Linked DNA regions of Homo sapiens: region 2 is linked to region 1. The links come from fine-mapping of genetic effects on gene expression. A gene starts in region 1. The other region holds a variant in brackets. All regions are shown on one strand. Distances are from middle to middle.

What was found.
Region 2: its variant is fine-mapped to the expression of SCARB1 in testis (GTEx, PIP above 0.99).

What each region holds. Positions count from the first base shown.
Region 1 is chr12:124,859,339-124,869,705 of GRCh38, reverse strand. SCARB1 (scavenger receptor class B member 1) reads left to right here and starts at 5,842. Exons shown (of 13, transcript NM_005505.5): 1 at 5,842-6,111. The coding sequence starts at 5,986. LOC105370050 (a long non-coding RNA gene) reads right to left here and starts at 5,644. Exons shown (of 3, transcript XR_945488.3): 1 at 4,102-5,644; 2 at 3,030-3,108. RefSeq lists enhancers at 2,010-3,209, 3,638-3,807, 5,195-5,394, 7,488-8,014 and silencers at 5,625-6,304, 7,535-7,664.
Region 2 is chr12:124,835,512-124,845,878 of GRCh38, reverse strand. The region is part of intron 1 of SCARB1 (scavenger receptor class B member 1); the gene reads left to right. Among named protein-coding and RNA genes, the nearest start is that of SCARB1, 23 kb to the left of the region's middle. RefSeq lists enhancers at 5,520-6,044, 6,045-6,571. The variant A/C (reference allele first, on the strand shown) is at 5,638.

The sequences.
Region 1 (10,367 bases):
CCAGCCTGGGCCACAGAGCGAGTCTCCACCTCAAAAGAAAAAAAAATAAGGTTTCCTCTTCCTTTGCTTTTTATTTTGTCCTTTCTCTCACCCGTCTCTTTGCTTTCCTTCACTTTCTTCCTCTTTTTCCTTTCCCTCAGCAAACAGCGTAGTGGTCATGTGTGTGGCAAGTCACTGGTTCACATCTCTGCTCTCTGCTCGCCAGGAGCCAGCTGTGCCTCCTTTAAGGAAGCCCTTCAGCTTCCATTCACTGTGTTCTATTGCCGCTGGGGATGAGCGTGATTCTTCCCAGGCTGGGGTGGGAATGCGGCTGCCTGCAGGAGGTGTTGGCTCCGCCTCACACAGGCACCTTGCTAAGCATATGACCAAGATGAGCCCATGTAATCCTCATGACCACCCCAGGGTGCAGGCATGACTCAGACCAATCCCAAGGCACCGATAAGGGAGCCGAGGCACAGAGAGGCTGAGCAACTTGCCCCAGGCCGCCATGCCAGGCAGCTGCGTGTTCCGGCGGCAGAGGCAAGCTTTTACCTTGGACTCTGGTAGATGTGGTTCATCCACACACACCGACCAAGGGCCTACTGTGGGCCACGTGCTGTTGGGGAGCCGGGGGCACAGCAATGGACGAAACAGGCAGATTCCTGCCCCGTGGAGCTTTTTTTATCCTAGAAGAGGAAGGAAGCCAATCAAACAAGCAAACACCCGCCCTGGAGGGCGGTCGGTGCACAGAGAGAAATGAAGCAGCCAAGGGGGATAGGGAGGGTCCTATGGGTGGTTTGTAACTTTCAAAGGGTGGGCAGGAAGGAAGTCATTGCTGAGAAGATGGCATTGGAGCAAGGACCTGAAGGAAGGGAGGGTGAGTCTCCTGGGTGTTAGGGAGAGGAGCATTCCAGGAGGGGACCAGGGAGTGCAAAGGTTCTGGGGCACGAGCCGGGCAACAGGTGGAGGAGCTCCAGGGAGGAGGATGTGGCTGGAGCAGAGTGGGCAAGGAGAGGGAGGGGGATGAGGTCAGGGAGATGTGCCCATCTGGGTGCGTTTTGACTTTGTCTCTCTAGTATGAGATGTGGTGATCTTGTGGGCCATGGTGAGGGCTTTGGCTTTTATGCTGAATGAGGTGGGAGCCACGGAAAGGTTTCTTTCTTTTTGTTTTCTTGAGAGACAGGGTCTCACTGTGTTGCCCAGGCTGGAGTGCAGTGACACAATCACAGCTCACTCACTGCAGCCTCGACTTCCTGGGCTCACGTGATTCTCCCACCTCAGCCTCCTCAGTAGCTGAAACTAGAGGTGTGTGCCACTTTACCTGGCTAACTTTTTATTTTTTGTAGAGATGGTGTCTGGCTGTGTTGCCCAGGCTGATCTCGAACTCCTGGCCTCAAGGGATCCTCCTGCCTCAGCCTCCAAAAGCACTGGGATTATAGGCATGGGCCACCATGCCTGGCCATTTCTTTAAAATAACAGTTTTCATTGAGATATAATTTGCATATCATACATTCACCCATTTAAAGTATATAATTTGGCCAGGCATGATGGCTCACACTTGTAATCCCAGCGCTTTGGGAGGCCAGGGTGGGAGGATGACCAGAATTTTGAGAGCAGCCTGGGCAACAAAGTGAGACCCTGTCTCAACAAAAATGAAAACATCAGGTGTACATAGTGGCATATACTTGTTGTCCAAGCTAGTCAGGAGGCCGAGGCGGGAGGATGGTTTGAACCCAAGACTTCAAGACTGCACTCCAGCCTGGGTGACAGAGTGAGACCCTGTCTCTTGAAAAAAAGAAAAAGTAAATAAAGTGTGTAATTTGATGGTTTTTTGTATATTCACGGAGTTGTGCAACCATCATTACCATCACTTTTACCGTCACTTTTAGAACATTTTCACCACTCCAAGATGAAACCCCAAACCTGTAGCAGTCACTCCTCATTCTCCCCAGCCCCTGGCAACCACTGGTCTACTTTTTGTCCCCATAGATGTGCCTACTATGGACATTTTATATAAGCAGAATCATACATGTGGCCTTTGTGTCTGGCTTCTTTCACTTATCAATGTTTTCAAGGTTCATCCATGGTGTAGCACGCGTCAGCCCTTCATTCCTTTTTATGCTGAGTCATATTCCAGTGCGTGGTTATGCCACATTTTATTTACCTATTCACCAGCTGATGGGGGTGTGGGTTATTTTCACTGCTTGGCTGCTGTGAACATTTGTGTCCAGGCTTCCGTGTGGACATGCTCTTTCCTTTCTCCTGGGCATATACCCAGGAGTGGAACTGCTGGGTCTTAGGGGACCCCTATGTTTACCTTTTGAGGCTGCACCATTTTACAATCCCACAAGCACCTCAAGAGGCTTCCAACTCCTCCAGGTCTTTGCCTGCAGTCATTCTCCGTCTTTGATCACGAAAGGACTCTGAGCAGAGGAGGAAAAGCATCTGACTTGATTTTCCAGGAGCCCTGTGACACCATGTTGATCATATTTTGTTATCAGCACTCTTTCTTTTCTTCTGTATCTTCGACTTTCCCCAGGGCAAGACCTCTCTCTCAAACATGACGAAGTCTTTTTTTCCCTTCTTAAGCTGCCCTCCCTGCCACCGGAAGTGACTCCCCTCAGCAAGGCCAAGGTGGCTCACGTGTCCCATCACCCTTTCATCTCTGCCCTTCTCTCTCGAGTGACAGCATGGCGTGACATGAGGGCTCTCCAGCCATGGCCTTGCAGCCCTCTTGGGTAAGCATCACGTACATTTGGACCTTGAAGACTTGGTCATGAATCAGAGTTAGATTGGGTGAGATGGTCAAGGCAGGTCAGTATCAAGGAAGTGGAGGAGGGTGTCAGGGCCAGGCAGACCGCAGATTTTAGTTAACTGGCTAATTTCCGAGAACTACAAAAGTCATTAAAAAAAAAGGCAACTGCATAGCTGAAGGCTGTTGAAGGCCTTAAGGAATTCAATGAAGTGATATTAATTAATTAATCAATCGATCAGTTACTTGATTAATTAATGAGTTAATTAGCTGATTGAGTAAAGTATTTATTGAGTACCTGCTATGTGCCAGGCATTTTTCCAGGTGCTGGAGATACATCGATAAGCAAAACAGGGTCAGCTTCTGTCTCTCGGGAGCTGGAGGAGATGAACAAGGAAACAGATAAGACCATTTCACACAAAGCAAGGTGGCCTGACAGAGTGGGCTGGGACTCCTGTTTTCAACAGATGCAACAGCAAAGGCTTCTCTGAGGAGTGGGTTTCAGCTGAGCCCAGAAGAGGAGAGTGGGGAGCCATGGAAGGATCTAGGGGAAGCGTATCCTAGACAGAGGAACAGGAAGTGCAAAGTTCCTGACACAAGAAAAAGCTGGGGATGCTCAATGAACTGAAACAATGGGGGAGAGGGCAGGAGATGGAGGCAGAGAGATGGGCAGGCGCCAGTTCATGTGGGTCCGGAAAATAACGACGACACTCCCCAGCTCAGTTGCACTGACACATTCCAGGGACTGTTCTAAGCACTGGCACATTTTTTGACTTGTTTAATCCTCATGGTAGCCCTTGGAAAGGGGCTCTTCTAATCCCCGTTTCGTAGATGAGGAGACTGAGGCACAGAAAGGCCCAAACCACTTGCCCCAGGACTCCAATGTGGGAAACCCCAGAGCCTGGATTTCTCTGAACCTGTCCCCCGGGGCTACCACAGTCTCACCTCAGCCACTCTGACCTCCCTCAGGAGTTGGGCCCTGCCCCTTGGGGCACTGGACCATATTCGGCCTCCTTAGAGGAAGGCAGTGCCAGGCAAAGCTGTCTAACGAGAACATAGCAGGTGCTCTGTAAATATTGGTTCAGGCGAAGACATGTTGCTTAAGGATGGCCCTGCGAGAAGGCTGCTTTCTTCTGGAGTTAAATAAGAGGTTTAGAAAGCCTCCCTCGGAGCACTCAAGGACTGAGCCTGCCTTACCCACGTGCTGGGGACACCACCCTCCTGTCCCTGTGTAACCCAGGAGTCTCTTCTCAGTAACTTCATTCAGAAAATGAGGGGACTGGCCAGCACTTCAGGGACCAGAAGGCAGGCCAGGTGGGGTGTGGTGGAGGACTTCAGGGGGGCGTGGAGGGCTTCAGGGATACACTCACCCATCTAAGGGCAACTGCCACTTAGTGCCAGCCCACTTCTCTCCCTTTTTTCTTTTTTCTTTTTCCCCCAGGGTCTTGCTGTCACCCAGGCTGGAGTGCGGTGGTAAGATCAGGGCTCACTGCAGCCTTGAACTCTGGGACTCAAGGGATCCTTCTGCCTCAGCCTCCTGAGTAGCTGGGGCGACAAGCGCATGCCACTGTGGCTGGTTAATCTTTTCATTTTCTGTAGAGACTGGTCTCACTATGTTGCCCAGGCTGGTCTCCAACTAGTGGCCTCAAGTGATCCCTCACCTGGACCTTCCAAAGTGCTGGGATTACAGTTGTGGGCCACCATGCACCGGGCCTGTTCTGTTTTCTTGGAGCACTTGCCTGCAATTATCCTTCATTCATTTGCTCACGTGCTCATCATTGGTTTCCCTCTTCATTAGAAAGTGGGGACTTGGTTTGGGTTAACTAAGCTTCCCTGTGCATCAGTTTTCATTTCTTTCTTTCTTTTTCTTTTTCTTTTCTTTTTTTTTTTTTTTGAGATGGAGTTTCGCTCTTGTTGCCCAGGCTGGAGTGCAATGGCGCTATCTCGGCTCGCCACAACCTCCGCCTCCCGGGTTCAAGCGATTCTCCTGCCTCAGCCTCCCGAGTAGCTGAGATTACAGGCATGCGCCACTACGCCTGGCTAATTTTGTATTGTTAGTAGAGACGGGGTTTCGCCATGTTGGTCAGGCTGGTCTCCAACTCCCGACCTCAGGTGATCCATGAAGTCCACCCGCCTCGGCCTCCCAAAGTGCTGGGATTACAGGCGTGAGCCACCTCCCAGTTTTCTTATTGTAAAATGGAGCCATTGTGTGCAAAGCACTCAGGACAGGGGCCAGCACCTAGAAGGCTCCTCAGTCATTCATTCTAGAATATTTACTGTGAGCAGGCATTCCCTGCCAGGCCACGTTCTAGAGCTCAGGACGCGTGGGGGGGGGGGCCCGCCTCACGGGTTGGCATCCCAGTTGGAGCACATGGTCAGAATGCAAGGACGCAAATGAACGTGAACCTGCCAGGGGGTGCTCAGTCATAGGGTGATGGTGGCACCAGCGTTACGAAGGATAGGGCCAGGCGGATACCTGGGAGAACAGAATTGCCTGTGCAGGGTGTATGGAGGCCCTGGGGCTGGAGCCTGCGGGGCTTCTTCCAGGGACAGTGAGGCTGGAGATGGACTGCGGAGATGAGGGTCTAGAAGGTGGTGGCGGGGCATGTGGACCGTTGTAAGGGCTCTGGGGTTCCTGGGTGGGCTGGCGAAGTCCTACTCACAGTGACCAACCATGATGATGGTCCCGATAGAGGAGGAGAGGGAGGAGGAGGGAAAAGGAAGGGTGAGGGGCTCAGAGGGGAGAGCTGGGAGGAGGGGAGACATAGGTGGGGGAAGGGGTAGGAGAAAGGGGAAGGGAGCAAGAGGGTGAGGGGCACCAGGCCCCATAGACGTTTTGGCTCAGCGGCCACGAGGCCTCCTCAGCTCCCGCCCCAAAACGGAAGCGAGGCCGTGGGGGCAGCGGCAGCATGGCGGGGCTTGTCTTGGCGGCCATGGCCCCGCCCCCTGCCCGTCCGATCAGCGCCCCGCCCCGTCCCCGCCCCGACCCCGCCCCGGGCCCGCTCAGGCCCCGCCCCTGCCGCCGGAATCCTGAAGCCCAAGGCTGCCCGGGGGCGGTCCGGCGGCGCCGGCGATGGGGCATAAAACCACTGGCCACCTGCCGGGCTGCTCCTGCGTGCGCTGCCGTCCCGGATCCACCGTGCCTCTGCGGCCTGCGTGCCCGGAGTCCCCGCCTGTGTCGTCTCTGTCGCCGTCCCCGTCTCCTGCCAGGCGCGGAGCCCTGCGAGCCGCGGGTGGGCCCCAGGCGCGCAGACATGGGCTGCTCCGCCAAAGCGCGCTGGGCTGCCGGGGCGCTGGGCGTCGCGGGGCTACTGTGCGCTGTGCTGGGCGCTGTCATGATCGTGATGGTGCCGTCGCTCATCAAGCAGCAGGTCCTTAAGGTGGGTGAGGGAGACCCCAGGGGGTCCGCGCACGGACCCGGGCTGTTGGGCGCTGGGCGCCGGGAGGACCCGCGCGTTGCGGTGGGTGGGCGACCGCAGCGGAATCGGCGCCCGGGCCTGGCGCCGCAGAGCACGAGGGAGGCCAGGCGCTTCGGGAGGGGCTGCTGCCCGCCTCCCCACCACCCTCACCGCCCCAGACTGAGGCTAGGGGGGAACCCAGGGGCTTTGCTGGAGGCGCAGGCCAGGGTTGGGGAGGCCTGGACGGGAGACCACCCGGGCGCCTGACCCGCCCTAAAGGGTCTGGGCGCCCACGACGGATCAGGAGTGTGGACAGGTTGCTTCCGTGGTGCCGCCCGAAGGAGCCCAAGAGTGTGTGAACGTCTGCTTTCACAGCAGCCGGTAGCAGGGTCCGGTAAAATTAGAGCTGCACTTTGCTTGTATCCTGTGAGCCCAGGAGGACAGGAACCTTCTGTGAGACCCACGTGGGTGCCCAGCTCACATGGTAGGTGCTCAGCTGAGCATCCTCCACTGCCCAGAATCTCCCCATAGGAACCCTCTCCCAGAGGCAGAATGCGCGACTCTGTTCTCCCTGCTCACTGCCTCCATGATTCAGTCTGGAAACTATAAGCCGCTTTTCTCCCCAGATTCATGCAGAGGCAGGCAGCAGCCCAAGGTCCTCTGAGTGCACGCAGCCTTAGGTCTTTCCTCTGATCCTAACTTTGCATACCATTGCCCTTTCAACCAGGGAGACAGATTAGGCGGTCAGCTGGTCTGCAGACGGACAGACTCTGCCCTGGGTGCCTGGGTGGCCTGTTTGAATGAGCCTGGAGTTAGGGAAGGGCTGGGAGATTGCAGAGTATCACATTTGAACTAAAAGCCATTTAGAGTTTTGAAGCCCTGGGAACCCACACATGCAGTGGCGGGGAGGGGAAACTGGGGCTCACTCTTATCAAAGTTCTAGCCAGATGCAGAGCTGGGGTGAAGATGTGGACATTGTCACTCTAATGGACGTCTTTTCCCCTTGGCCTGCCTCTTTGGACTGGGTTTCTTAAGAATGGTTCCTTGTCCACATTTCATGTCTGTTCCCTCATTCACAGAGCGAATGAATGAGTGAATGAATGAAGGATCTGCTTAGATCTGGCTGCCACACTTCTTGGGACCCAGCTAGCTGGCCTTAAAGATGGAGCAACATATGGTCTCTCTCAAGGTCTCTGGGTGAGCAGTTGTCTAGGGCATCTTAGCCACGTTGTGTCTATTTTTGATTTTTCAAATCTTGTCCCGCCAAAGCCTGTAATCTGACTGCAAAGAGGTCCCGGTGGATGGTGACACTGTCTCTGGGGATGGCAGGAAAATCAGCAGAATGGCCTCTTCTCCCCCATGACAGCTCAGAGGCTTTCTCTGTTACACTGAGGGAGCTTTATTTTTCTGTGGCCTACTCATACTGAAACGTGTGTGTCAGTGACAGCCTTGTGGCTGCTGCAGTGCCAGGACCCCACTGTGTGTATGCAGGGTCCCTAGAGGGGCTATCACTCAGGCAGTTCAAGCATGTGACCCTGTGCTGTGAGTGAGCACCTGGTCTCTTGCTATGGGAGTGTGGGGACTTATGCCAGGTAAAGAGTCTTGCCAACTCAGTTATTCGGGGGCTTATTTCAAGGTGTTTTCTTTCTCAGGATGTCATCAGGTTAAGTATGTCAGTAGGATGTGTGTGTGTGTGTGTGCACCACACATGCATGCACCACCAAATTTCCCCACTCCTCTCCTGGGCTTCTAAAGAGGAAAACCACATTGTCCTCAATTGTCCTGGAGCTAGGAGCATCTGGCTTAAAGTTGAACAGGAGCCTCCCAGCATCCTTCTGTGGATATCCCAAAGGCGATTGGTTTGGGGCCGAGTGGTGTGAAGGCAGGAAGACACGCCCAGCCCAAGACGGCCACTTCTGGAACCGCCCAGGCTGGAGCAGCGGCCAAGTGCCTTAGCATGGAAGAAGAGAGCCTGTGTTCAGGGGACCAGGCGGGTGAGACACACGCATAAGCAGGGACTGCCCGCTGGTGTTTTCTTTGGCTACATGAGTCTGTGTGCAACTTGAATGGGAGGCCTTGTGCTTTTATTTTTTTTTTTTAATGTGCTTTTTGGTTAACAACAGAAGTCCCTACAGTTGGCCCTCTGTGTCTGCAGGTTCTGCATCCGTGGATTCAATCAACTGCAGATGAAAAGTTTTCAGAAAAAATCCCCCCAAAATAACAATACAACTAAAAAAAGACATAAAAACAATACTGTATAACAACTATTGACATAGCATTTACATCGTATTAGGTATTATAAGTAACCTAGAGATGATTTAAAGAATACGGGAGGATGCGCATAGGTGATATGCAAATACCACAGCATTTTATGTCGGGGACTTGAGCATCTGCAGATCTTGGTATCTATGGGGGTCCTGAAACCAATTCCCCTCTGACATTGAGGGACGACTTTATATAAAATATATGAATACTTGCTCGTAAAAAAAAGTTCAAATGGAGGAAAAGAGAGAAAGTTTCCCCCATTTTATTCCCCTCCTGAGCTATTATCACCATCATTGATGTGGATCTTTCTAGACCCTTTTCTGTGTACCAGGAGCCTGTATGTATACATATTAATATATATTTTACATAACTTGAACTAAGTGTAGGTGAACTTGAACATGTATAATTATCTTGCAATTTGTTTTTCAATTCAAAGATACCAGCTGAAAAATTTTCCATGTCTCAGCAATAAGTCTACCCCGCGTTTTCCTTCATCACTGCTGGTATTCCTTTGAATGGTTATAGACTTGTTTACCTGTTTCTCCATTGACTGATCATTTTCTCTGTCACAAATGACAGCGATATCCCGACACATCCCTCTTCGTGTGGTTCATGAACATTTCCATAGGGTGGATTTCTAGAAGTGGGGCCTTGGGAGCAGGTGTGCTCAGTTTGAGTTTTGATGATTACGGCCAAATTGCCCTTCTGCACAGCTCTGTTGCTGCATCCACCCACAAGGTATGGGACTGTGCTACTTCCCCTATCTCTGCCATCACTGGTAATTACTGATTTATCATTACCATTTTTTGGTAGCCAAGTTCCCGTGTGTCTCTGGTCCTCCAAGGAAGGCCCAGCTGGTGGACATGGGGGAGAGGCCCCTCACTGCAGCTGGGCTGCAAAAAAGGGATGCTCATCTTCCGAGGCTGCTGTCTTCAATGATGAGCTGGGGTGAAGATGTGGATATTGTCACACTAGTTGACATCTTTTTCCCTTTGGCCTGCTTCTTTAGACTGAATTTCTTAAGAATGGCTTCTTGTCCACATTTCATGTCTATGTCCTTTTCACAGAACTTGGATGTGTGCCCCCAGGGATCTGAACCATGTCTTCATTATTCACCGGATCACCTGAGGTCAGGAGTTTGAGACCAGCCTGGCCAACATGGCTAAACCCTGTCTCTACTAAAAAATACAAAAACTAGCTGGACATGGTGGTGCACGCCTGTAATCCCAGCTATTCGGGACGCTGAAGCAGGAGAATAGCTTGAACCTGGAAGGCTGAGGTTGCAGTGAACTGAGATCACGCCACTGCCCTCCAGCCTGCGTAATAGAGTGAGACTCCATCTCAAAAAAAAAAAAAAAAAAATGAAGGAACTTAGAAATATGTCTCAGCATGGGTAGGCCATAAAAACACATTACTAATTGAAAAAAGCTCTGGTGCTATTTATGTTTAAAAAAAACCCACCAAACAATATTCTATATTTTCTTTCCATTTTTATTTTTATTTTCGTAGAGACAAGGTCTCACTATGTTACCCAGGCTGGTCTCGAACTCCTGGCCTTAAGTGATCCTTCTGCCTTGGCCTTCCAAAACACTGGGATGATAGGTGTGAACCACCGCGCCCTGCCATTATTTTCAATGGCTTAATATTAGAATATGTTAAAGTTTGGGAAAAGGTGAGACTAACAGAAGTGGCTACTCTAATGAGAGAAGGCAGGACACTGGGGGTGTGGCCAAAGGAAACCTAATACTTTATCTGTAATGCTATTTTTTTTTTTCTTTTTTGAGATGGAGTCTCGCTCTGTCGCCCAGGCTGGAGTGCAGTGGCACGATCTCGGCTCACTGCAGCCTCTGCCTCCTGGGTTCACACCATTCTCCTGCCTCAGCCTCCTGAGGAGCTGGGACTGCAGGTGCCTGCCACCACACCCAGCTAATTTTTTTTTTGTATTTTTAGTAGAGATGGGGTTTCACCGTGTT
Region 2 (10,367 bases), 24 kb after region 1:
CACCACACCCGGCTAATTTTTTTTTTTTGTATTTTTAGTAGAGACGGGTTTCACCATGTTGGCCAGGCTAGTCTCAAACTCCTGACCTCAGGTCATCCACCTGCCTTGGTCCCAAAGTGTTGGGATTACAGGCCTGAGCCACCGTGCCCGGCCCTGGACATTTCTTTTTTTTTTGAGGCAGAGTCTTGCTGTGTCACCCAGGCTGGAATGCAGTGGCGTGATCTCGGCTCACTGCAACCTCCGCCTCCTGGGTTCAAGCGATTCTCCTGCCTCAGCCTCCCCAGTAGCTGGGACTACAGGCGCCCGCCACCACGCCCGGCTAATTTTTTTTTTTTTTTTTTGTATTTTTAATATAGACGGGGTTTCACATGTTGGCCAGGCTGGTCTCAAACTCCTGACCTCAGGTCAAACACCTGCCTCGGTCCCAAAGTGTTGGGATTACAGGCCTGAGCCACCGTGCCCGGCCCTGCACATTTCTTATAAATGAAATCATGCAATGTGTGGCCTTAAGTGCCTGGCTGCTTCCGCTTAGCGTCATGTTTTGGGGTTCATCCGTGGTGTGGCATGTGGAGTGCTGCTTTCCTTTTTGTAGCTGAGCAGGCCTCCACGGTGCGGGTGCACTGCATGCTGTTTTTCCGCGCCTCTGTGGATGGGCGTCTGGGCTGGTGGCTGCCGGGAGCGGTGCTGCTGGGAGCGCGCATGTTCGGGAACTCGCTTGGCTTCTGCTTTCAGTGGTCTCCTTTTATGCCCTCCTTCCCCTCACCCCTCTCGCTCTTCAGCCCGCCCTGCCCCTGCGCCCATCCTCTGTGTGGCTGCGTCTGTAAACCTGAGTGTGTCCTTGGACCTTGTGCAGTCCTAGATTCCGGAGCCTGCAGGTGTGGGTCCAGATCCCGGCCCTGCCTCCTGCTGCTGTGTGACCATGGACAGGCTCTTCGAGTCTCTGGTCTCTGGTGGGTGTCTGAGTCTGCATGGGAGGCAGAGGTTGCAGTGAGCCGAGATCGTGCCACTGCACTCCAGTCTGGGCAACAGAGCAGGACTCTGTCTCAAAAAAAAAAAAAAAAGAAAGAAAGAAAGAAAAAAATGTCCATAACAGGTGCATGGGCCAAAGACCATGTATTCCCGTACAGTTCTGGAGGCCGGAAGTCTGAGATCAGGATGTTGGCAGGGCTGGCTTCTCCGGAGACCCCTCTCCCGGCCTCATAGACGCCACCTTCTCCCTGTGTGCGCACATCCCCGGTGACTCTCTGCGGGTCCTAATCTCCTCTTTTAAGGGCGTCAGTCAGATTGGATTAGGGCTCACCCCACTGACCTCATTTAAACGTAATCACCGATTTAAAGGCCCTGCCCCCCGCGCCAATACAGTCACATTCTGATGCACCGAGGGTTAGGGCTGCAACATGGGAATTTTGGGGGGACACTGTTCAGCTCATAATAGTAGGGTGCCTATAAAATGGGCTAAAACCATGCCTTCCTATAGGATTCAGTGAGGACCGAGGGAGCTAGAGGTGGAAGTGCTTTGAGCTGGGGGTGGCACAGGGAGGCCCCCTTCATGTGGCCTGTCACGTCTGAGGAGAGGGCGGCTTTTCCATGCCATGCACGGTAACTCGTGTCAACATTCCTCGTGCTGCCCTGTTTAAAATCTATCCGTGTTCCTATGTGTGTATCAGGCTTATTGCTTCCTTCTGCTGCCTGGACCCCCTAATTCATGTTCATCCTGTTGTATTTATTCCCTTAGCGACGGGGGTACCTTGGTTATGTCTGACTCCTGCCTCCACAAACAGCAAATATGCTGGACCCTGCTGCCTTGTACTTCTCCACAATTTCCTGGGGATGCGCAGGAGTGGAATTGCTGTAGGGCAGAGGGGGAGCCATTTTCACCCAACATGCCTTCCAGAAGGGCCACTGCTGTTCACCCTCCCAGCTCTCACATCCTCTCCAGCACCTGAGACGATTTAGTCTTCGAGAATGTCTGGGGTCTCAGTGAGGGTACGTGGTGCAGCATTGTTCTCATGTGCTTTTCTGAGGTGTGAATTTGAGTCTTCTTCCTTTCATAAGTCCTCAGGTGGGGGTCTGAGGCTCAGAGATTTTGAGGGCCATGTTGGAGGGTCACAGAGCAAACTGGGGCTAGACCCCACCAGCTTGGGCTTGGAGGGCCTCCAGCTTGGATGTAGGGCCCTTCATAAATCCAGGATGATCTCATCTTGGGATCCTTAACTTGGTAACATCTGTAGAGACCCTATTTTTAAATAAGGCCACATTCTGAGGTTCTAGGTGGGCATGAATTTGGCAGGGGACATGCTTCAGACCAGCACTATGTGTGCAGGTGCCCAATCCTCAGATCTGCAGAGCTCTGGGTTCAAATCCAGGTCCCATTACTTGGGTCCTGTGGAAACTCACTTTTTTCCTAAAAGCCGATTTCCACCTCTGCACATGGGGCCAATGTTCTTCCATCTCACAAACCAGAAGTCAAGGCCAGGCGCAGTGGCTCATGCCTGTAATCCCAGCACTTAGCGAGGCAGAGGTGGGAGGATCGCCTGAGGCCAGGAGTTCAAGACCAGCCTGGGTAACATAGTAAGACCCCCCCCCCCATCTCCACAGAAAGTAAGAAACAAAAACAAAACAAACTGGAGGCCAAGGAGAGCAGCTGCGGATGGTCACGTGCCTCTCCCTGGGTGTGCCCAGCTCTTACCCAGAAAGCCCTGGCTGGCATTAAAAATAAGGAAGGTAAAATAGGGATATGATCAAACAAATTAAAAGTGTACGGAAAAAGAGTCAGCCTTCTGGAAAGATCACAGCACGACACTGCTCCCCTGGCCCCAGCTGGTCTTTGCTCCAGAGGTGACTTGGGTTAATAGTTCCTTGTTTTTCCTTCCTGCAATAAACATGTTTGCGTCCACAGAGGGGGACCCACACCCGTATCCTTCCCGTCCGTGGCACACGTCCCACAAGGGCACACGGTTCCCATGCTTTTCTGCCTCTTGGCTGGGGCACCTAGGTGGATCTTGGCATCTCTTGTTCCCGCACAGAACCCATCCTCATCCGAGCCCTGGGCCTCTGTCTCCCAGCAGGCTTTGCAAATAGGACCTTGTAAAGGACAGGGCTGTGTTTCCCAAAGGCCAGAGCAGTGAAGAGGGGCATGTGGGGTCGTGGGGCACACCTCTAGGACATTGGGGTCCAGGGGTCCTTTCCAGTAAGACCTTGCTGTGCTGGAAACACCCCTGTGTCTTTCAGGGCTGTTTTCAGAGTCAGGGTTGATGTGACCGCCACGTTTCCTCTGGGCCTGACAGCTGTAATCTGTGGCTTGGGAGTGCAGATAAGTGTGATGAAGCTGCCAGCAGGCCTGGGCATCTGTGTCCTTGGTGGGGGCAGGGAGAAGAGACAGGGACTGGGATGCTGGGGCCAGGGCCAGAGCCCCGCTGAGATATGAGGTCCCCTTCCACCCTGGGAGGTGTGTGGGGAGGAGCTTCCTCGAACCCCTTTAGCTGGGACGGATGGAAGAATGAGCAGCTTTGCATTTCCGGCAGCGTCTCCAGCTTTCCTGGGGCTTTCTCGGCTTGTGTTATTGATGAACTCCAGTGCGTGAGGCCATTGGAGCCTTAGAGGCCTGTTTCCCCTGGACAGGTGACTGCCTGGGCCAGAGGCAGCACTGGCATGGTGCCCTCTTGCTCCTGGCTGGGAGTGACACGGGGCGTGGGGCGCTTTGCATTCATCCCCAGCTGTTTGGGCACATTTACAACCCTCATTTTACAGATGGGACAAACCCCAGTGGAGAATCTGCTCCGGGCAGCTGTTTATGAACCACCTGAATGGGGCACACAGGACTGTGGGAGGAGGAGGAGGGACCCCCAGGGCTGAAGTGGCAGGGAAAGCTACTCATCCTTTCGGCCCATGTTTACTGCTCACAAATTGTGGGCCAGGTCTCGTGCCAAGTGTTGGAGCTACAGCCGTGGACAAAAGAGACCTGGTCCTGCTCACGGCAGCTACGCTTTAGCAGGAGGGATGGGCCATGGAGAAGCACATGGAAGAGGTGGGGTGGCGAGAAGAGCTAGGAAGGGGACGAGGCAGGTGAGCTGACATGGAGCCACTGCTGGGAAGGGGACTCCTTCTGATGTGGGAGTCAGGAGGGCCTCTCAGAGGAGGGGCTCTATGAGCTGGGGAGCAGCTGGCAAAGAGCACAGCAGGTTCAAAGGCCGGAGGTGCGAAGGAGCCTGCTGTGTTGGAGGAAGAGGGAGCAGGCCAGTGGGGTTGGGAGAAGTGACTGGAGGGGGTGAAAGGGGACAGGCATGTGGGGGCCTTGCAGGACACCTGGAGGAGTTCAGATTTGGTTTTCAATTCCATGGAGGGTTCTGAGCAGGGAAGAGCCATGATCTGACTCAGTATTTTTTTTTTTTTTTTTTGAGACAGAGTCTTTCTCTGTCGCCCAGGCTGGAGTGCAGTGGCATGGTATCAGCTCACTGCAACCTCCGCCTCCCGAGTTCAAGCAATTCTCTTTTTTTTTTTTTTTTGAGACGGAGTCTTGCTCTGTTGCCCAGGCGGGGGAGTGCAGTGGCGCAATCTCCGCTCACTGCAAGCTCCGCCTCCCTGGTTCATGCCATTCTCCTGCCTCAGCCTCCCGCGTAGCTGGGACTACAGGCGCCCGCCACCACGCCCGGCTAATTTTTTTGTATTTTTAGTAGATACGGGGTTTCACCGTGTTAGCCAGCATGGTCTCAATCTCCTGACCTCGTGATCCGCCCACCTCGGCCTCCCAAAGTGCTGGGATTACAGGCGTGAGCCACCGCGCCCAGCCTCAAGCAATTTTCTTGCCTCAGCCTTCTGAGTAGCTGGGATTACACGTGCGTGCCACTACACTCGGCTAATTTTTGTATTTTTCGTAAAGATGGTGTTTCACCATGTTGGGCAGGCTGGTCTTGAACCCCTGACCTCAGGTGATCCACCTGCCTTGGCCTCCCAAAGGGCTGGGATTACAGGTGTGAGCCACCACGCCCAGCCTGACTCAGTCTTGAAGAGCTCTCTGGCTGCTGTCTGGAGAAGGGAGTGTCGGGGGCCAGGCTGGAAGCGGGGAGGCAGAGAAGATGGTGATTTGAGCCAGGTGGGGGTAGTTTTCTAAATGGAAAGAAGGGAACATATTCGAGTTTTTTTTCAGGGAGAGTCAACAAGATAGGTCAGTGGACTGGGGTGCGAGGGAAGGAGAGGAATCAAGGGTGGTTCCTCAAGGTTTGAGGAGTTTGGTAGATGGTGGAGCCATTTTCCGAGACGAGAAGATCGGGGGAGGGAGGTTGAGAGCAGATGGAGTGTGGGCCTTAACTCTGGTCCTAAAATCAAGCGAGGACAACTCAACAACAAGAGTCAGACAACCCCATTAAAACACGGACCAAGCACCTGCAAAGAAGACATGCAGGCAGCCAGGCGCGGTGGCTCACGCCTGTAATCCCAGCACTTTGGGAGGCCAAGGTGGGCGGATCACAAGGTCAGGAGTTCGAGGCCAGCCTGGCCAAGATGGCGAAACCCCGTCTCTACTAAAAATACAAAAATTAGCCGGGTGTGGTGGCAGGCGCCTGTATGTAATCCCAGCTACTCAGGAGGCTGAGGCAGGAGAATCGTTTGAACCTGGGAGGTAGAGGTTGCAGTGAGCCA[A/C]GACTGTACTCCAGCCTGGGCAACAGAGCAAGACTCTGTCTTAAAAAAAAAAAAAATGCAGATAGCCAACGGGGACATGGAAGTGTGCTCAGCGACACTCGCTCATCGTTAGGGAAATGAGAATCAGTGAGACACACTCATACCCATTAGGATGGTCACTTGAGAAAACAGAAAATCTCAAATATTGGTGAGGATGCGGAGAAATCGGGGCCCATGTGTGCCGTTGGGGTGAGGGTGCGGAGAAATCGGGGCCCATGTGTGCCGTTGGGGTGAGGGTGCGGAGAAATCGGGGCCCATGTGTGCCGTTGGGGTGAGGGTGCGGAGAAATCGGGGCCCATGTGTGCCGTTGGGGTGAGGGTGCGGAGAAATCGGGGCCCATGTGTGCCGTTGGGGTGAGGGTGCGGAGAAATCGGGGCCCATGTGTGCCGTTGGGGTGAGGGTGCGGAGAAATCGGGGCCCATGTGTGCCGTTGGGGTGAGGGTGCGGAGAAATCGGGGCCCATGTGTGCCGTTGGGGTGAGGGTGCGGAGAAATCGGGGCCCATGTGTGCCGTTGGGGTGAGGGTGCGGAGAAATCGGGGCCCATGTGTGCCGTTGGGAATGTAGGATGGTGCAGCTGCTGTGTGGAGGCCCCCCCAAAATTTAACATAGAATTACCATATGGTGGGGCAACCCCACTTCTGGGTATCAAAGAAATGGAAGTGGGAACTTGAAGAGGAATCTGGCCACCGCGTTCATTGCAGCGCTGTTCACGATGGCCCAACGGTGGGAGCAACCCGAGTGTCCGCTGATGGGTGGTGGGTAAGAAGCTGGGGCCCATCCACACGTTGGAATAGGATTCAGCCTGGAAAAGGAAGGACGTTTGGACGCACGCTGCGACATGCACGGGCCTTGAGGAAGTTATGCGAGTGAAATAAGCCACAACAGGACAAATACCGTACGATTCCATTTGCATGAGCTCCCTAGAGTAGCCAGATCCACAGAGACAGAAAAGAGAATGGTGGGTGCCAGGGGCTGGGGGAGAGGGGGTGCAGAGCTCTTTTTCAGTGGGTACAGGGTTTCACTTTTGCAAGATGAAAGAGTTCTTTAGATGGATGTTGCTGATAATTGCACAACATTGCAAATGTCCTTAATGCCACTGAACTGTACACTTAAAAATGGCTAAGTTGGGCTGGGCGTGTAGTGGCTCATGCCTGTAATCCCAGTACTTTTGGAGCCCAAGGTGGGTGGATCACGAGGTCAGGAGTTCAAGACCAGCCTGGCCAAGATGGTGAAACCCCGTCTCTACTAAAAATACAAAAATTAGCCTGGCATGGTGGCAGGCGCCTGTAATCCCAGCTACTTAGGAGGCTGAGGCAGAGAATTTCTTGAACCTGGGAGGCAGAGGTTGCAGTGAGCTGAGATCACACCACTGCACTCCAGCCTGGGTGACAGACCGAGACTCCATCTCAAAAAAAAAAAAAAAAAAGGCTAAGTTGGTAAATTTTATGTTTACCCCAATTAAAATTAAAAACTGTGGCAGGGTTTAACCTGAAGGGAGAAATGGTACCGGCCCCTCCTGCTTGAATGGGTTGGGCTGTTGGTTTGTAGATGGTAGACCAGACGGCCCAGCCTGTTGGCCAGGGTCAAATTCCAACATGCTGAGCCTGTTGCAGAAGACTTAGCCTTTGAAGCAGGCAGCCCTGAGCTTCTGATTCCTCCAGGCCCAAACCACCGTTGCCCTATTTTACAAGACCTTGGCTGGCTTCATGACGTGTTCTTGAACTGGAGCCAGTGGTGAGCTCAGGGAGGCTCCTGTAACAATAGTTCCCTGAGGCATGTTTATAGCCGGGTGCCCTCTTCACAACAGACACATGTCCTGGGTCATCTCATTCTCTCTGCACTGCCACGGGGAGGATGGGGAGGCAGTCACGTCTCCATGTGGCATATCAGGGGACCGGGGTGGGAGGGGCTGACTGAGCCGAGGCCAGAACTAGGTCTGCGCCCTGGCCCTCTCCCTAATGGCCAGATCCGGCCTCACCCGTGAAGCTGGCCTGGCAGGGGATGGCCCTTCCTGAATTTCTGTGTGGTCTAGGCTGGGGTTGGCATGCTTTTCTGTACAGAGACAGATAGTCAATATGCTCAGCTCTGCAGGCTGCACGGGTTGTGTCTCAGCTACTCAGCCCTGCTGCTGTGATGCTGAGGCTGCCATTGACGACACAGAAATAAGTCGAGGTGGCCGCTGTGGGCCAGTGCCACTGCATTTATGAACACCAAAATGTGAATTTCATATAACTTTCACATGTCATGAAATGGCATTTTTCTTTCAATTGTTTGTTTATTTATTTTTAACATATTTTTTGGAGACAGGGTCTCACTGTGTCACCCAGGCTGGGGGGCAGGGGCACCATCATGGCTCACTGCAGCCTAGACCTCCTGGGCTCGTTATCCTCCCACCTTACTCTCCTGAGTAGCTGGGACAACAGGCATGTGCCACCACGCCTGGCTCATTTTTTTTTTTTATAGGTTGGTGGGTGGGTGTGTAGGGGGGGTCCTCACTATGTTGCCCAGGCTCGTCTTGAACTCCTGGCCTCAAGTGACCCTCCCACCTTGGTCTCCCAAAGTGTTGGGATTACAGGCGTGCAGCACTGCACCCAGCTGGCTGACTTTTCTTTTCTTTTCTTTTCTTTTCTTTTCTTTTCTTTTCTTTTCTTTTCTTTTCTTTTCTTTCTTTTTCTTTCCTTTCTTTTCTTTTTTCTCCCTTCCTTCCTTCCTTCCTTCCTTCCTTCCTTTCTTTCTTTCTTTCCTTCTTTCTTTCTTTTCTTTCTTCCCTTTCTTCCCCTCTTTCCCTTCTTTCCATTTGAAAATGCAAAATGATTGTTAGCTTGTGGGGTGAGTAGAAATAGGCATCAGGCTGGATTTGGTCCACAGGCTGTAGCTTGTTGAAACCTTTCTAAGAACAGAGAAGAATAATGTTTTTGCTTGAAAACAGCCAGCTTTATTGAGGTTGGGGTGTTTGAAAGAAGGCATATTCACTGTCTGACTTGTGTGGAAACAGTGGGGCTGGGATCAGCCCTGGTAGAAATTGTTTTTGTCCAAAAAAGCAAGTAGAGGTGGGCTGCCTGGAGTTCCCGTCATGCAGGTGCAACTGGGGAGCAGGATGAGGCCCTGATTTGGCGGGGAAGGAGAGGTTGTGCTTGATTCATCTCTGTGCCCGGGGACCAGGACTGTATGCACCTTCCAGCATTCTCTTCGCTGGTCTGAGCTCCTTACTTGCCACGCCTGTGCTGGGCCTTTACCAAGGCAGTGCCCAGCCTTTGGTCAGACCCAAGGTCAAGACTCTGTGCCAACATTGGGTTTGTGCTCTTGGGCAAGCGAGTGGTTTAATCTCCCTGTACTTCACTTTCTTCATCAGTAAAATGGAGACAAATTATTAGCTTTATTCTATTTTATTTTATTTCATTTTATTTTGAGACAGGGTCTTGCTCTGTCACCCAGGCTGGAGTACAGTGGCACGATCATGGCTCACTGCAGCCTCTATCTCCTGGGCTCAAGGGATCCTCCTGCCTCAGCCTTCCACGTACCTGGGTCTACAGGCATACACTACCACATTTGGCAAATTTTTAAACATTTTTTGTAGAGATGGGGCTCACTGTGTTGCGCAGGCTGGTCTCGAACTCCTGGGCTCCAGTGATCCTCCTGCCCCAGCCTCCCAAAGTGCTGGGATTACAGGTGTGAGCCACCACACCCAGCCTAATTGTTAGGTTTAAATAAATGAAAGCATTGCTTTAAATGGGATGCTTTGAGCTGGAAACAACATAAAACTTGCCTCCAGTGGCTTCTGTAATGCAGATGTTTACTGTTGTGCTTCCTGAGAGATGGGAGGTGGTGGTTTCCAGATGCGTTCAGCAGTTCAGAACATCGTGCTCTGCCTCAGTAGATTTTGCCCAGTGGCTCTCCGAGGTGGCTGTACTGATGGACATTCTGGCCAGTGACACATGCGCGAGACCTCTGGTGCTTGCCAGTGCGTGCCAGTGAATACGTGTGATGTCCCTGAGCTCTTCCTACTGGGTACCTGAGTCACTTGTGAATTGCGTGTCCTCTTCCCCACTTCCTGCTCAGTCCACGAGGGCAGGAATCCTGTTGGATTAACTTTACCCCTGTAGCACTGATCGCCCGCTTTGGATGCTCAGGCAGGGTTGAAATGAATGAATGACTGAGTGAATGAATGAATGAATGAATGCCACGTTCTCATCGTGTGTTACTATAGGACAGGGATTGCAAACTGTGCAGGAACATACATGGGGGAAGGGCCCTGGCATGAGGTGATAGGGAGTGGTGGGGCCCGTTGCAAGCTGGAGGGCACACCCCAACTGTGAAGCGGCTCCTGCTTTGCTCCAGCGGGCTGGGCCACGTGGCATGCAGGCCCAGAGCTGGACATCACCCAGGTTCCCAAAAGAAGCCAGAAGGCAGGAATTTACCTGCTGGTTTAAGATACTGTCAACAGATTCAAATATTTTGAAATATGTGATTCAAAACCCATCTACTGGCAAAATCTGGCCCATGGGCCCAGTTTGTGGCATCTGTTTCAGGAAGAGACAAGACCTAGTTTGTGTTTTTTTTAGTGGGGGCGGGGAGGATGCGGTGTATAAGAAATTTTGAGTGAATTAAAAAAAATTTATGAAAAATTTCAAGGGCTGGGTGCAGTGTCTCACGTTCGTAATCCAGCTCTTTGGGAGGTTGAAGCGGGAGA